4 linked regions of the Homo sapiens genome follow. The protein of the gene in region 1 purifies or fractionates together with the protein of each later gene. This does not show direct contact. Each region holds a gene or a part of one and is shown in the gene's direction. Other genes may lie near its edges. The genes, in order: DNAJC25-GNG10, TXNDC15, SUSD1 and CEMIP2.

Evidence for each region.
Region 2: the proteins of DNAJC25-GNG10 (region 1) and TXNDC15 purify together in Homo sapiens (affinity purification with mass spectrometry, with the first as the bait; one large-scale study listed by BioGRID). This does not show direct contact.
Region 3: the proteins of DNAJC25-GNG10 (region 1) and SUSD1 purify together in Homo sapiens (affinity purification with mass spectrometry, with the first as the bait; one large-scale study listed by BioGRID). This does not show direct contact.
Region 4: the proteins of DNAJC25-GNG10 (region 1) and CEMIP2 purify together in Homo sapiens (affinity purification with mass spectrometry, with the first as the bait; one large-scale study listed by BioGRID). This does not show direct contact.

Annotation. Positions count from the first base shown.
Region 1 is NC_000009.12:111,629,725-111,634,686, forward strand, and holds the start of DNAJC25-GNG10 (DNAJC25-GNG10 protein precursor), read left to right. Parts: upstream 1-1,609; 5' UTR 1,610-1,683; coding exon 1,684-2,019; intron 2,020-4,962. Other genes in the region: DNAJC25 (dnaJ homolog subfamily C member 25 precursor), read left to right, coding at 1,684-2,019.
Region 2 is NC_000005.10:134,880,298-134,884,543, forward strand, and holds part of TXNDC15 (thioredoxin domain-containing protein 15 isoform 1 precursor), read left to right. Parts: intron 1-4,246. UniProt on the Homo sapiens protein: Acts as a positive regulator of ciliary hedgehog signaling. Involved in ciliogenesis.
Region 3 is NC_000009.12:112,043,009-112,046,761, reverse strand, and holds part of SUSD1 (sushi domain-containing protein 1 isoform 2 precursor), read left to right. Parts: intron 1-3,753.
Region 4 is NC_000009.12:71,761,741-71,765,986, reverse strand, and holds part of CEMIP2 (cell surface hyaluronidase CEMIP2), read left to right. Parts: intron 1-4,246. UniProt on the Homo sapiens protein: Cell surface hyaluronidase that mediates the initial cleavage of extracellular high-molecular-weight hyaluronan into intermediate-size hyaluronan of approximately 10-5 kDa fragments.

The DNA of each region.
Region 1 (4,962 bases):
CACATCCTTCAAGCCATTCTCTATTCGTCCTCCAAAGTCAGTTTAGCTGTCAGCTCCTACTGGAATTGATGCTTGTAATTGATCCCGATCCTAATAATTTCAGGAGACCCTCCCATGTGTTTCCATTCATTTTATCTTTCTCATTATATATATATATAAGCATATATATAAGCCATATATAAGCATATATAAACATATATGAGATACAAATGTAAATAAGCATATATGATACACAAAATTGTTATTATATATATAACTTTTGTATCTCATTACATATACATGTATCTCTCTCATTACATATATAACTGTATATGTTGCTATATAGTCCCATGCAATATTTAGTGGGCTGAGGTGAAAAATAGACACATATATGTTATATATGTAATGACAGAGACATATATGTGTAATGAGATTATATATATTATATATGTAATGAGGGAGATATATGTAATGAGAGATATATATTTATTCAATGAGAAATACAAAATTATAATGTATATTCATTATGTATTATAAGTATATAATGCTATGTATCAGTATTTGATTTCACTTTATTAAAAGAGTTGATTATATCTGAACGTTTATTTATTTGTTACTGACTGTCATCCTCCATCAGAATATATGCTCTCTGAAGTTGAGCTTCTTGTTTACTTTGCTCACCACTGTATCCCCAGTGCCTAAGTAACAGTGCCCGGCTCAGAGTAGAGACTCAATAAACATTTACCAGATGAATGATAGAAACAGATTTTTTGAGGCAAAGTTTTTCATGTTGCCATATAGTCCCATGCAATATTTTGGACATACTTATACTAAAAAATTATTATCTGAAATTCAAATGTAGGCCGGGCACGGTGGCTCACGCCTGTAATCCTAGCATTTTGGAAGGATCGCTTGATCCTTCCAGCAGGTTGTCCCGGGAACGCGCAGCCCAAGGTGGACGCACAGACCCGCGTACAGAGATTTTTTATTGTCATGACTGGGGGTGGTGGCACTACTGGCATTTAGTGTGGAGAGGCCAGATATGCTGCTAAACATCTTACAATGCAAAGGGCAGCCCCTCAAAGGCAAAGAATTATCTGGTCTAAAATGTCAATAGCGTGGAGGCTGAGAAAAACTGAACTAGATGGCTATGAACTTTCAGGGTCCCTACCTAGTACACAGGCAGCGCCTAGAATTGCTAAGTTCATCTTCCGTTTGGAAAGGCAGCATGGGGTTAGTGAGAGGAAGGCGCCCGGGGCTGGTGGCTGGCTTTAAAGGCCTACGTGCAAATCTTCTTGACGCTGATAACGGGATGCGAGAGAGCCAGGTAGGTTACCTATTGCAGCAGGTCAAGTGATGATGTCGAAAAGGATGCGTGTGCCGGACACTGTGGAAGGTAAAGCGCTCCGCACAGCCCGCCTAAGTGCGCCCGGGACAGAGCCATCCCCCAGGTGCTACCAAACAAATCCTCCAGCTGCTGGTACGGGGAAGGTGTTCAGTGACACACCGGAAGCAGCCTAGTGGCTGAGGCGTCCTTCTCCCTACCAACGGGTTGCGAAGGAAGTAGTTGCTGTAGCCGCGCCCTGTGCGCCTGCGCGGAGGCGTCGGCTGCTGACGTGTAGCTGGGGCCAGACGGGACTAGCCGGGCGCGCGGCTGAGTGCTGCAGAATCGCTGGGGTGGCAGAGCCGCCAGCGAGGCTGGGGATGGGGGCGCCGCTGCTCTCTCCCGGCTGGGGAGCCGGGGCTGCCGGCCGGCGCTGGTGGATGCTGCTGGCGCCCCTGCTGCCGGCGCTGCTGCTGGTGCGGCCCGCGGGGGCCCTGGTGGAGGGGCTCTACTGCGGCACGCGGGACTGCTACGAGGTGCTGGGCGTGAGCCGCTCGGCGGGCAAGGCGGAGATCGCGCGGGCCTACCGCCAGCTGGCCCGGCGCTACCACCCTGACCGCTACCGGCCCCAGCCCGGAGACGAGGGCCCCGGGCGGACGCCGCAGAGCGCCGAGGAGGCTTTCCTGCTGGTGGCAACCGCCTACGAGACACTCAAGGTGAGGCCTGCGGGCGTGGAGGGGCTTCGAAGACTGGCCGCGGGAAGCCCACGGCGCCTTCCGACCCCGGTCCGCGGAGCGTGGGCCTCTGTGACCCCGAAACTGAGCACAGCCACCACCGCGACCTTTAAGATACTCACGTTTCCCACGTGGCCCTGTGAAAGAGCCGAGTCGGCCCCACGGGGCCTTGGGGGGCACAGCTAGCCTCCTTGCCCTCTTCCTTTTTGTGACATTGTTATGCAAAACTTTGGCCATCTTACGATTTCGTGAAAATATTTTAATAACGTGCATTTCACATTCGAAAAGCAGGGTGATCATTATTAGTAGGATCTGGGGTAGCCCACAACAGGGAAAGTCTCGAATATCAAGTGACAACTGTGATCGCATCAGTTTGATATGACAGAAAATTGGTTTCTGGAAATAGTGTTAATGGTGACGCTTAGTTTGGGTTTAAGGAACTAAGAAAACACTGAGAAGAACAATGAACACCAGTCAAAAGGCTGGATGTGAGTCTTTGCTGTGACACCCCTGTATGACCTTGGATAGTGACTTATTATGTTGAAATAGCTGTTTCTTCATATGCAAAATTAAGGCCATGATACCTCCTCTCAGAGTTATTATGGGGATTAAATGATAAGTGTGCGAACCGCCCCCCTTTCCATAGGATCCATAAATAGGTGCTTAATGACTTGGGTACAAAACTCTGAGAATTTCTAGTAGGAAATATTTTGTGAATATGTATTTGTATTTCATTTGACAGGTTTTATTGAGTCTTGTGGGGATGAGAGATTTAGCCCGATGCTGTTTTCTTCTACTACTGCAAAAAATCAAACCATCTAGGACATCACGAAGTATAAATCGTACTTGATGGTGGTATTACTGCTTGAAGGGCCCCATCATACTAATGCGTCAGCGATTGTAGTTGTAAAGTATTTCTTTTCTAGCCTTTTTTTTTTTTTCCCGAGGCAAAATTTTCTATGTTGCCAGGTAGCCTGCTTTTAATGATTGTACTTTGAGTGGATATAATTTTACCTTGGATTGTTCCTCCAGATTGTTTTTCCAGAGCTGAAAATAGTCAAGGAGCTAACAACTTTATTGATGCCTTCCAGAGCAGTTTGGATAATTTGGAGTCATAAAATGAGTGGTGGAGGGGCGGGCCCTGAACTAGGTAAACTAGGTGAATTGAACTAGGTAAAATTTAATTTACCTAGTTCATTAAATTCTCACTAGCGTTAGTGAGATTGTAATTTTTATTGGCAGTTAACTGAGGGATGGCTGGGGAACTGGGAAAGTGCTGAGGCCCCAAAGGGCTTTGTTGCCGATTATGTAAAAAGTGATGGAAAAAAGACTCCAGAAAAAATAGGAAAGAACTCTCCATCCAAGGCACTTCAGCATATGAAGCTCCAACCTCTGTTCCTTGTAGTCAGCCAGAAGCCCTGCTGGTGCGTGAGGGAGCCCTGGACCAGTGTGTGAAATCATAATGGGATTTACTAGGGATAGTAAAATTGATAGGATTAGGGATGTTAATCATGTTAATTTGTTTCAGGCGCGAGATGGTAATAAGGTTGTGGTGCTTGAATTTAGGTTGAGTGTCAGGAATGCAGTAGTTGTTAGGATGATATAGATAATTAGGTTAAAGATAGTGATATTTGGATTGTATATCAGTTATCCCATTATGATTTCACACACTGCTTTATAAACTAAGACCATGCAATAGTATTTAGTGTGTTTGACTTTTGGGGATTTAGGGAGTTTATGGACTTTGGAAGTTAAACAAGTGGACGCTTACCCTCTGTGTCAACCCATCTTCTGGAAGATGGAGAACTTCCAGAAGAGAGGGCAGCAGAAACACTGCCAGCTGTTGCCTTCTGCTGGGCTTTGTAGGAGTGGAGATGAGTAGTTTTGGCATGAGAATGGTGAGCATGTTGGTAAGAACTTTGAAAACAAGTGCCATGATTAGAGGGTAGAAATAGTGATGGTAGAGATTCCTGCTGGGAGGGCCACCAGGAGAGACTGATCAGTGCCCCCATCCCGGAACTGATCTGATGAATCTATATGGTTGCCTCTAAAGGTTTCTACCCCTAAAGTTTACCACTCATTGTCAGCTAATGAAAAGCTAGATAAAATAAGTGATCCACTCAAGATCAAGGAACGTTTAGGCAGTTAAAGACCAGTATGTCTGGAGTAGGTAACACTTGTACTCTTGACTCTGACGGGTTTGTGATAGCTACAAATATCTTGGAACAGGGGAGTGGAAGTGGAGTTGTACTGGTGGAGGAGGGAATGAGGGGAGTGTTCTGTAGCTCCCCCAGAACGCCCACTGTCTTACTGTGGAAATTATCTGTGAGACAAAAGGGATGTCTGGAGATATTTTGGACCCTGGAAAATCAGACCCAGCAGAACTCTTTGAAAACTTGCATTTTAAATTTATGGAGATGAACATATATTCATCTTCCAAGTGGAGCACCTCCAAGAACTATTTACCTCATTGAAGATGCTCTCTCTTGGAATAAGGATAAGGACTTTGACTTGCTGTCTGTGGGAGCAATTATTACAGGGTGGTCTGCTTTAACTTCTGTCATAACGGAGAATTGTGAGGAAGTTGCCAAAGAATATGTTTTCTGGGTAATGCAAGGTTTTAATGAACTGAGGTCATCCAATTTGGAGGGCTTCAGCCTTGCACATTATCCGTTGAGGCAATGGAGATGTAATGGCTGTTTGTTTGGATTGTATCCTCCGGCTGTAAAAAGGGTTTGTGAAGGATAAAAGGTCCAGGTGGCGTTTGCTAAGAGCAGGTCAGATAGAATAGTGGGAGAAGCTGAGTTCCAGTGGCTCTGGAATAAAAACGGGATGCAGAAGCCTGTATCTGAATGTTGATAATAAATGCATCACCAAAATGGAAACTATAATTATGTAAAACATCAGTGGATTTATGATTCTGAG
Region 2 (4,246 bases), on another chromosome or scaffold:
TGGATCCATATTTCCATCTGTTAACATTTTTCTTCTGCCTGAAGGAGTTCCTTGAAGATTTTTGTCATGTGGGTTCGCTGGTAATGAATTCTTTTATCTTTTGTATGTCTGAAGAAGTGAAGAAGTATTTATTTCACTTATTATTTTTTTTTTTTTTGAGATGGAGTCTCGCTCTGTAGCCCAGGCTGGAGTGCAGTGGCACTATCTCAGGTCACTGCAACCTCCACCTCCTGGGTTCAAGCGATTCTCTTGCCTCGGCCTCCCGAGCAGCTGGGATTACGGGCGCCCGCTACCATGCCAGGCTAATTTTTTTTTTTGTATTTTTAGTAGATACAGGGTTTCACCATGTTGGCTAGGCTGTTCTGGAACTCCTGACCTCAAGTCATCCACCTGCCTCGGTCTCCCTAAGTGCTGGGAGTACAGGCGTGAGCCACCATGCCCAGCCAAAATCATTTTTTTCTTTTTTTTTGAGATGGAGTCGCACTCTTGCTTGCTTTGTTTCCAGTGAGAAACCTGTTGTTATCCTTTGTTCCTCTCTACATGATGTTTTGTTTTTTTTCCTCTGGCTGCTTTAAAGATTTTTTTCTTTGTCACTGGTTTTGAGCAATTTGATTGTGATGTGCTTTGTTGTAGTTCATTGAGTTTGGGTTTTGTTGAGCTTCTTAGATCTATGGATTTATAGTTTTCACCAAGTTTGGAAAGTTTTTGGCTATAATTTCTTCAAATATTTTTCTGTTCCTCCACTCTCTTCTCTTGCCAGTACTCCAGTTACTGTACATTAGACCACTTGAAATTGTCCTACGGCCCACTGATGCTCTTAATTTCTTTCCATTCTTTTTTTTTTTCCTGTGTGTTTCATTTTGGATAGGTTCTTTTTATTTATTTATTTATTTATTTATTTATTTTTTTATTGATCATTCTTGGGTGTTTCTCGCAGAGGGGGATTTGGCAGGGTCACAGGACAATAGTGGAGGGAAGGTCAGCAGATAAACAAGTGAACAAAGGTCTCTGGTTTTCCTAGGCAGAGGACCCTGCGGCCTTCCGCAGTGTTTGTGTCCCTGGGTACTTGAGATTAGGGAGTGGTGATGACTCTTAACGAGCATGCTGCCTTCAAGCGTCTGTTTAACAAAGCACATCTTGCACCGCCCTTAATCCATTTAACCCTGAGTGGACACAGCACATGTTTCAGAGAGCACAGGGTTGGGGGTAAGGTCACAGATCAACAGGATCCCAAGGCAGAAGAATTTTTCTTAGTACAGAACAAAATGAAAAGTCTCCCATGTCTACCTCTTTCTACACAGACACGGCAACCATCCGATTTCTCAATCTTTTCCCCACCTTTCCCCCCTTTCTATTCCACAAAACTGCCATTGTCATCATGGCCCGTTCTCAATGAGCTGTTGGGTACACCTCCCAGACGGGGTGGTGGCCGGGCAGAGGGGCTCCTCACTTCCCAGTAGGGGCGGCCGGGCAGAGGCGCCCCTCACCTCCCGGACGGGGCGGCTGGCCGGGCGGGGGGCTGACGCTCCCATCTCCCTCCCGGACGGGGCGGCTGGCCAGGCAGAGGGGCTCCTCACTTCCCAGTAGGGGCGGCCGGGCAGAGGCGCCCCTGACCTCCCGGACGGGGCGGCTGGCCAGGTGGGGGGCTGACCCCCCCACCTCCCTCCCGGACGGGGTGGCTGCCGGGTGGAGACGCTCCTCACTTCCCAGACGGGGTGGCTGCCGGGCGGAGGGGCTCCTCACTTCTCAGACGGGGTGGCTGCTGGGCGGAGGGGCTCCTCACTTCTCAGACAGGGCGGTTGCCAGGCAGAGGGTCTCCTCACTTCTCAGACGGGGTGGCCGGGCAGAGACGCTCCTCACTTCTCAGACGGGGTGGCCGGGCAGAGACGCTCCTCACATCCCGGACGGGGCGACAGGGCAGAGGCGCTCCCCACATCTCAGACGATGGGTGGCCGGGCAGAGACGCTCCTCACTTCCTAGATGGGATGGCGGCCGGGAAGAGGCGCTCCTCATTTCCTAGATGGGATGGCGGCCGGGCAGAGATGCTCCTCACTTTCCAGACTGGGCAGCCAGGCAGAGGGGCTCCTCACATCCCAGACAATGGGCGGCCAGGCAGAGACGCTCCTCACTTCCCAGACAGGGTGGCGGCCGGGCAGAGGCTGCAATCTCGGCACTTTGGGAGGCCAAGGCAGGCTGCTGGGAGGTGGATGTTGTAGCGAGCCGAGATCACGCCACTGCACTCCAGCCTGGGCACCATTGAGCACTGAGTGAAGGAGACTCCTGCAATCCCGGCACCTCGGGAGGCCGAGGCTGGCGGATCACTCGCGGTTAGGAGCTGGAGACCAGCCCGGCCAACACAGCGAAACCCCGTCTCCACCCAAAAAATACGAAAACCAGTCAGGCGTGGCGGCGCGCGCCTGCAATCGCAGGCACTCGGCAGGCTGAGGCAGGAGAATCAGGCAGGGAGGTTGCAGTGAGCCGAGATGGCAGCAGTACAGTCCAGCTTCGGCTCGGCATCAGAGGGAGACCGTGGAAAGAGGAGGGAGAGGGGGAGGGGGAGAGGGAGAGGGAGAGCTGGACAGGTTCTATTGCTATCTTCAAGTTGACTATTTTCTTCCGTATTGTCTACTTTACCATTATTCTTATAGAGTGCAATTTTCATCTCAGACATTGTAGTTATTATAATTTACGTCTTTAAAAGTACGATTTGGGCTGGGCACGGTGGCTCATGCCTGTAATCCCAGAATTTGGGAGGCTGAGGCGGGCAGATTACTTGAGGCCAGGAGTTTGAGACCAGCCTGGCCAACATGGCAAAACCCCATCTCTAGCAAAAATACAAAATAATTAGGCTGGGCATGGTGGCTCACGCCTGTAATCCCAGCACTTTGGGAGGCCAAGGTGGGTGGATCACGAGGTCAGGAGTTCCAGACCAGCCTGGCCAACATGATGAAACCCCGTCTCTACTAAAAATACAAAAATTAGCTGGGCATGGTGGCACATGCCTGTAATCCCAGCTATTCAGGAGGCTGAGGCAGGAGAATTCCTTGAACCGGAACCCAGGAGGAGGTAGCAGTGAGTGAGATCGTGCCACTGCACTCCAGCCTGTGCTACAGAGCAAGACTCTGTCTCAAAAAAAACCAAAAAAACAAAGACAAAATAATTAGCTGGGTGCAGTGGCTCATGCCTGTAATCCTAGCTGCTTGGGAGGCTGAGGTGGTAGAATCGCTTGAACCCGGGAGGTGGTTGTGCCACTGTACTCCAGCCTGGGTGACAGAGCGAGACCCTGTCTCAAAAAAAAAAAAAAAAAAAAAAAAGAAAAGAAAAAGGCTAGGCCTGGTGGCTCGCTGGCTCACACCTGTAATCCCAGCACTTTGGGAGGCTGAGGCAGGCAGATCACTTGGGGCCAGGAGTTTGAGACCAGCCTGACCAATATGGCGAAACCCCATCTCTACTAAAAAAATACAAAAATTAGCTGGGTGTGGTGGTGGGTGCCTGTAATCCCAGCTACTCAGGAAGCTGAGGCAGGAGAATTGCTTGAACCTGGGAGGTGGAGGTTGCAGTGAGCCGAGATGGTGCCACTGCACTCAGCCTGGGCAATAAAGGGAGACTCCATCTCAAAAAAAAAAAAAAAGGAAAGAAAGCCAGGCGCGGTGGCTCATGCCTGCAATCCCAGCATTTTGGGATGCCGAGGCGGGAGGATCACCCGAGGTCAGGAGTTCGAGACCAGCCTGGCCAACATGGCGAAACCTCATCTCTACTAAAAAATACAAAAATTAGTCAGGTGTGGTGGCAGGCACCTATAATCCCAGCTACTTGGGAGGCTGAGGCAGGAGAATTGCTTGAACCCGGGAGGTGGAGGCTGCAGTGAGCTGAGATTGTGCCACTGCACTCCAACCTGGACGATAGAGCAAGACTCAGTTTCAAAAAAAAAAAAAAAAAGGGTACAATTTGATCTTTTTTTTTTTCCCGAGACAGAGTTTTGCTCTTGTTGCCCAGGCTGGAGTGCAATGGCACTATCTCGGCTCACCACAACCTCTGCCTCCTAAGTTCAAGCGATTCTCCTGCCTCAGCCTCCCAAAAAGCTGGGATTACAAGCATGCGCCACCACGCCAGGCTAATTTTGTATTTTTAGTAGAGATGGGGTTTCTCCATGTTGGTCAGGCTGGTCTCGAACTCCCGACCTCAGGTGATCTACCCGCCTCAGCCTCCCAAAGTGCTGAGATTACAGGTGTGAGCCACCGAGCCC
Region 3 (3,753 bases), 410 kb from region 1:
AAAGAGAAATTTAACACAGTAAATAGAAGTCACTGTGCTAATTATTATTTTTATTATTATTTACCATTTGGAGAACAGAATTGGTGCTTTCAGGAAGTGACCATGCCCGTGTATATTCATGAAAAAATGTCCACACCCATGGAGCGTCCTCAAGCTGTCACAAAGTCTGAGAGTAGAAATAGGGCCTTTCTAACTTCCTCTTCAGCATGTGATATTTCTATCAGGGAAGGGGTTAAAGATAAGTCCAGCAAGGCCCCATCACTCCTCCTGAGCACTAGCTCTCTTGAGGGAGCCACCATAAAGAGAATGGTGAAGTTTAGTCTTAATGGACTTACTTTCTCCAAGATTGAGTAACTGATGTGGGATATAACACATGAGTGATTCACTTGGGTTTGTAAAAAAATATTCTACAAGTGATTCAGAAGAAAAATAAACATGGTTCTCTGGCATGAGACCATGGAAAGGTAGGGTAACCAAAGGATGGTGAGGCTATAAAAAATACAATTCAAATTTGCCAGTTGTAAATTTTCTTATTAAGGAATTAATGAGGAAAGTCTCTAAAGAAGCTTGTGTGGCAACACTTGTGAGCACTCTTGATTAGATTGACTCAGATTTTTAGAGTATATATGCAAAGTAGACAAAAAGACATATAACCAGGAACTGATCTACCAGCAAGAATCATTCCTGGAGCCAAACCCAAATTGTGCTATGCAGAATAAATAAAGATCATTTTCCAATACTATGTCTAGAGTAAGGAATAGTTGTGCCCAGGTAGATCCTGCTGGTGGATGGTCAAGTGAAAGTCAGCTTCCTTAACTCCTACTTAGCTTTTGTCCTCTTCGTTTGTGAGGGGATAGTTAGAAGAAAGAAAAGAGCTTGCTACCCTACATAGGTTCAAGTCTTCCAACATGGATGTAGCGTATTCTGGCAGGTTCATACAATTTTCACATGAGATGGATAAACCATTGCAAATGATCTTCAATAAACCTTGAAGAAAATGGAGAGATGTAAGAGGACTAGAGATGAGCAAAGAACAAGGAACTTTGTACAAAGGAAGAACCACCAGAAGTGTAGATGATGGTAACTTGAAGTCAAGGCAAAGCAAGGTCTTCAAGTGATGGCTTGTGTATCCCTGGTAGAAAAAACAGCAGTTCCCGGGAGTCAGGAGCTTTAAGAGCAGATTAGGTCAGATTGCTTTCCATTTCTTCTTGCACAGAGTCAGTAATTGGTCAGGGAAATATGGCACGCATAATAACAATAATGTCCTTGTGGACAATGTGGGGACATGAGAGCTGTATGTGGGCTTAGAAACAAGCTGAATGGCTATGCACAGTTGATATCAACTCATTAACAATTATTGATGAGTTGAAATCAAACCCAAGAATATGCATGATATGGATTTCTGTCCACAGTCATCTTCAGTTCAACATATTCATCAATCAGTGATTAAAATATACAGAGGGTTAAAGTGTAGAGGAAAAAATACACAGAAAAAAACTTGATGTCAGAAGTTGGAAGGAATACTGGGTAGATCGGATGAAATGCCAGTGCAGTAAAGTACCAGCTCCCCCGTTCATCTCCAGAATTGTATTTTCTCTTAAAAACAAAACAAAACAAAACAAATCTAGTTAATTAGTCCACCAAGATGGCATTTAAAAAAATGTTTCTGAGTCATGCACAAAGATGGCATCTTAATGCCTTAATTTGCATTTTTATTACTTGTAAGAGAGCATTTGCTCAAAGTTTTATTGATCATCTGTAATCATGTTTTTCATGTGATTTACCTTTTCGTAGAATTTTCTCATTTCGCTATTGAGGTATGTCTTTATTAATCTGTAACACTCTCTGTATGTTAACTTCTTGCCCATTATTCTAGATATTTTATCCAGCTTGCCATTTGCCTTTTAATCTTGCTTATGGTAGTTTTTGGTATAAGAAGTGCATGCTTTTTAAAGTGGTTAAATCTCTCATTCTCTTAAGGTTTCTGTGTTAACGAATATGCTTAGAAATTTCTTACCCCCTTTAATATTAGGTAAATATTCACTAACATTTCCTAATCCTTTTAGGTTTCAATTTAAGTCTGTAATCCATCTGGATTTTATTTTGATATATGGTGTAAGCTCTAGTGATCAAAATTATTTGATTCTAAATGGTTAGCCAATTTTCTCAGCACTGGTTATGAAAAATTTATCATTTCCCCAATGATCTGAAACAGTATCAAAACAACAAAAACAATAATAATTAACAATAGCTAACATTTGCTTATTGCTTATTCTGTGCCAGGCACTGTTTCAACCTGTACTAACTCACTGACTTCTCCCACTACCTAGAGGTGGGTAGTATTGCTATCATTCCCATGTTATTACAGCATCCCTCAGTGTGGGGACTGAGACACAGAATGGATGAATAACTTGCACAAAGTCACACAGGCAGTGGTGGTGTTCAGATAAAGACTTGGACATCTGACTCCAGTATTCAAACTTTGAAAGTATTTGATATGCTTGGATTTGTTTCTAGGCTATTTTGTTCCAATGTATTCATTCCTATTCTAATACTGCACTGTTTTACTGTCTTGCAATTCAAGTCACTCTCCTAATATTTTTTCTTTACTAATTCTTCACTTAATCACTGTTTCTCCTTCCATTTTATAATCTAGTTTCTTGGCTGGGCATGGTGGCTCATGCCTATAATTCTAGCACTTTGGGAGGCCAAGATGGGCAGATCGCCTGAGGTCAAGAGTTCGAGACCAGCCTGGCCAACATGGTGAAGCCCTGTCTCTACTAAAATACAAAAACTAGCCGGGCGTGGTGGAGTACACCTGTAGTCCCAGCTACTAGGGAGACTGGGGCAGGAGAATCGCTTGAATCCGGGAGGTGGAGGTTGCAGTGAGCCGAGATCATGCCACTGCACTCCAGCCTGGGTGACAGAGCAAGACTCTGTCTCAAAAAATAATAATAAATAAAAATAAAATAAAACAAAATAAGTAATCTAGCTTCTTAAAGTGTCAAGGCCATTTTTCTTCTATAGACTAAAAGCAACCAAATAATATAAGCCATGTTTTCTAGAAAGGCTCTTGGCAGCATTTTTTGAGAATTAGTAACCGCCCAATGAGTTTTCCTTGCCTGCTGCCTAGACAGAGCTGATTTATCAAGACAGAGGAATTGCAATAAAGAGCTTAATTCACACAGAGCCAACTGTATGGGAGACTGGAGTTTTATTATTACTCAAATCAGTCTCCCTGAAAATTCAGGGATGGGGTTTTTAAGGATTACTTAGTGGGTAGGGGGTAGGGGATGGGGGGGTCAGTGAGTCAGAAGTGCTGATTGGTTGGGTTGGAGATGAAATCACAGAGTCGAAGCTGTCCTCTTGCACTGAGTCAATTTCTGGTTGGGGGCCACAAGATCAGATGAACCAGTTTATGGATCTGGGTGATGCCAGCCGATCCATGGAGTGCAGGGTCTGGAAAATATCTCAAGCACTGATCTTAGGTTTTACAATAGTGATGTTAGCCCTAGGAGCAATTTGAGCAGTTCAGAATCTTGCAGCTTCCAGCTGTAGGACCCCTAAACCATAATTTCTAATCTCATGGCTAATTTGTTAGTCTTGCAAAGGCAGTCTAGTCCCCAGACAGGATGGGGATTTGTTTGGGGAAAGGGCTATTATCGTCTTTGTTTCAAAGTTAAACTATAAACTGAGTTCCTCCCAAAGTTAGTTCAGCCTACGCCCAGGAATGAACAGGGGCAACTTGGAGGT
Region 4 (4,246 bases), about 40 Mb from region 1:
GTGTGCTCTAAAATATGTATGAGCATTGCATCATTCACCCACCCACCATCCATTCAGCTAGCACTTATTAATCACCTATTGTGGTCCAGACCCTCTGGAAGCAATTGCAACACCTGCTTTGTGGAGCATTCATGTTGGTAAAGAGAAGGAGTTGAAGTGGTTGCAACCCGGGAGGCCACAGGGATTGAAGATACCTGTGTCACTTGCAACTAGAGAGATGACAATCTCTGCTATTGAAGAAATGAGCCTAGCCCCGGACATAAGGAAATGAACAATTAGAAGGTCCAATAAGTGCATGTCTGGGAGAATTACGCACAGAACGCTCTAAGAAGCCAGAGAAGGAACAGTTGGGGGTGGGGGAGCAATTTTGTGAGAAATAAAATTTGTTAAATCAGACAAAATAGTAGGGACTGAAAACTAGTGTCAGAAGTACTATCTTAAAATGGTGAAGATTGGAGGACTTGAAGTCAGACTTGGATTTAAAACAAGGCTTGGCACTTGCTAAACATTTGCTGTGGGCAAATCCCCTAATCCTTCTCACGTTGTTTCTTCACCTGAAAAAGGAGTTTTAAAATGCTTTATGGGAATGTTTTGGGGATTCAATTTGAGTAAGTTTGCTATGTATTAATATATGATAAAGTACTGTACAGGCTAATGCTGTCTGGTATCAAAAGGTACTTTCAAAAGTTTTTTAAAGCTATAAATAGATATAAATCATAGCTTAATCAGGTCTCAGCTACAGATTTTCATTTTATTGGCCCTTTCCAGAATGATCTGAATCCCATCTTGAGAGCAAGTCTTTAGACTTTTAAGCTAGTTACTGTCATATGGTATTGCTCTCTTGTCCAGGCTTCTTCCCATCCCAGCCACAGGAAATCTTTTCATTTCTCTTGGATTGTGAGCATTAGTGAGAAGAATGGGCTGTCTAGTACAGTACATCAATTGAAAAGGTCTTGTCTGGTTTTGTACGGTAACATCCATTCTCCCCTCTGCCTCCCAAGCCAAGCTAGCCCTTCTGTTTTCCTCTCTCTCAATATGATGAATATGGAAAAGGAAAAAAAAAAAAAGGAAGAAAAGCTATGCATCTGCCTTTTTGAGAGTATGAAAATCCCCATTACTAGTTTTCTCCATTTGTAAAGAGGTATAATTTTCATCTAGATTGTTAAAGTCTATTCTCTCAATAGCAGCAGCTGCTGTCTAGGCGAATCTGTTAGCAATACTCGCTTTAGTTCTCCACTTGAAATGGACTTAAGCCCATCTGACATTTTAATAAATTGCCTTTGATAGAAATCCAAACTCAGATATTTAAAACTATCAAGTGAACTGTGCCCTTTTGCCAGGGGTGCGGTGGGGAGGGGGGTAATGAATGTAAATCAGTTTTCTAGACACTGCTACATATGCTGAATCTTAGCATGTCGCTTGAAGGGACCTCAAAGATAATATTAAAACAAGGAAGTTGGGACCCAGAGAGGCTAAATAATTAGGTAAGGTCATATAGTAAATTAATAGCCAAGCAGGGACAAGAACTCCTTTGTCCCTGTTTCCAGTCAGCACTTTTTTTTTTTTCTTTCTCAGATATATTCTTATTTTATTCCTGTTTGGCTTTGTTAGCAATTTAATTAGTTTAATGATCAGATAATTTGTATTTGGGCTTTGAAAGTCACTGCTTTCAGGTTTAAGGCAGACACTATGTATATTTTTTCATTGCCTACTACTTACACATGATGGTGGGGTGATGTTACTTGTAACAAATTTCTGGGAAATAAGGAACTAAGTGTAAAAATAGCATTAGCTTTACTTGTATTTTCTATAAACAGGATGGAAATTTAAAGTACTGTAGATGTGCACATTTTTTAGAAGAAGCAAGTTCCTGGAAACCCTGTTCAGATTTGGCTTGTGAATCATAGAATAAAAGCATACTAGAATATGTTTGCATGTTCTTTTTTTTCTTCTTCAAAACTTATGGCTGTAGGTCATGTTTGCTTGTTCTTTTGTTTTCCTGGTACTTGCTTTGGGAAGCCTTTAATATTGGTTGTCAGGAACTATGTTCAGCAACTATTTTATTGCATTCCTAGGATGTGCAAGGCACTGTACTGGTTGCTGTGAGCAATACAGAGATAAATTAAGCATAGGGTTTTTATTAAAATGTCTTTAAAAAAAGTGAAAGACTCATAAACTGTATGTCTTAAAACACAGAATTGCTATCTCCCAACAAATCAGTCCTTTGATCTATAAGGCAAATCTGCTTTGAAATTGTTAATATTAGGGTAACCTAGTAACCAGATTTGTAACAAGACATTTATTTTCTTTACACGGTGAAAAGTGATAAACCTTTTTACATTTGTTGTATCAAGGGTCCATTGTAGTTTGAACAATAAGTAAAAGTTCAATATTTGATAAGAATTTTATGTGAAAAGTTTGCCTGGTAGAGATTGTGGCATTCTTAATCCTCATATTTTTTAATAAGGCTTTACCACTGGTTAGAAGTGTCATTAGGATGTTGTTGCCTGAAAGAGTTGAAATTTAAGACAATCCACATTGAGCCCATGAGAAAAGAATTGACCTCTGACTGAGTTTCATGTAAGTATCTTAAAACATATGAATATCCACTATAAATTTGATATCGTGGTCAGGTCAGATTAAGTCCCCCTCCAGTGTGAAATTGTTATCGATTTGGGGGCTCTTACTTAATTATTGGTGTGCACTTTGGAGACAGCAAGCCTTCTGTTGTCTTAATGGTCTCTGTAATGGTGATTCACTTCCCTGAAGAATGAATCATTTTTTCACATACAATGAAGTTTGGAAAGTTAATTATTAACATTTTAGGAATGGGAAAGATTTAGCTTAACACAGGGACATATGCCTGATTCCTGTTTCAGGAGGAATTAGAAAAATGAGTTCTTGAGGTTTTCTTTTTTTTTTTTTTAAGTTGTGGTTTGAAAAAACATAACATTAAAAAAATATATTTTTTTGAGACAGGAGTCTCACTCTGTCACCCAGGATGGAGTGCATTGGTATGATCACAGCTCACTGCAGCCTCCACCTCCTGGGCTCAAGCTATCTTTCCACATCTCAGCCTTCTGAGTAGCTGGGAGTACAGGCATGCACCACCATGCCCAGCTAATCTTTATATTTTTTTGTAGAGATAGGGTTTCACCATGTTGCCCAGGGTGGTCTTGAACTCCTGGCCTCAAGTGATCCTCCCACCTCAGTCTCCTAAAGTGGTGGGATTACAGGCGTGAGCCACTGCACCCATACTAACATTGCTTTTTAATGCCACCAGTGCCACCACTATAAAATCAACTTTATATGAGGATTTGAAAAATATGCTTGAGCAGGGCTTGGCTGAGTCTGAGGTTGGCTTTAATCTTCAAGTGTTTTTTCTTGCCTCCTGTTAGTGCTTGCAGCACTTGGGCTTGTCACGTAGCCCCTGTTTGCCTGTTATGCTGCTGCTAGCCAGTTTTTTTTTTTTTTTTTTTTTTTGGTGACGGGGCTGGCATGGGGTCTTGTTAGGTTACCCAGGCTGGAGTGCAGTGGCTCTATAGTAGTCCTAGCACACTATAGTCTTGAACTCCTGGGCTCAAGCCATCCAACTGCCTCGGCCTCTAAGTGGATGGGACTACAGGTGCACATCATTGTTCACCTCTTCCTAGCCACAGTGTATCCCTATTCGGCTAAGTGAAGTCCAGCTGCCACTCTAGTGCTGAGTAATTACTTGTTCATTAGAAGTTCTGCCTTTTGACTCTGTAGCACCCTTGAGTCTTGAGGAACATAGAGGAAACTGTTGAGAATGTGTAAGATGGCCCTTTTGTTTGGCTTAGGTTTCACGTGGCCTAGGAGGAGAGGGACTATGACTGTTTTATATTCTGGCCTGGAACTCACCTGCAGGTGACACCCTTTCAAAGAATATGAAAGACTTCTGTAGTGTGTCACCCTCCCCTCCCTCCCATACTTTTTAGTCACTATTGGGCAACGTGTCGTCATTTAAATGGCGGAGTTCAGTGGTAGACTTTAGTTTACACATGCAAAATAAGAAAGATATTAGTAATCGTCTGGTGGTGCACATTTGGGTGAGTAAATTTGCCAGGGCTTTTAGAAAATTAAGCTCTATTCCATTCATAGGGATTTAATAAACTCAAGCAATCACCTCCTCAGCCCACCTTCTTTGCCTCAACATTCAGTTTAATTACTTGTTTACTTGTGTTGTCTCCCTACTCTTTCTACCCCCAAATGCTGGGCTGTGAGC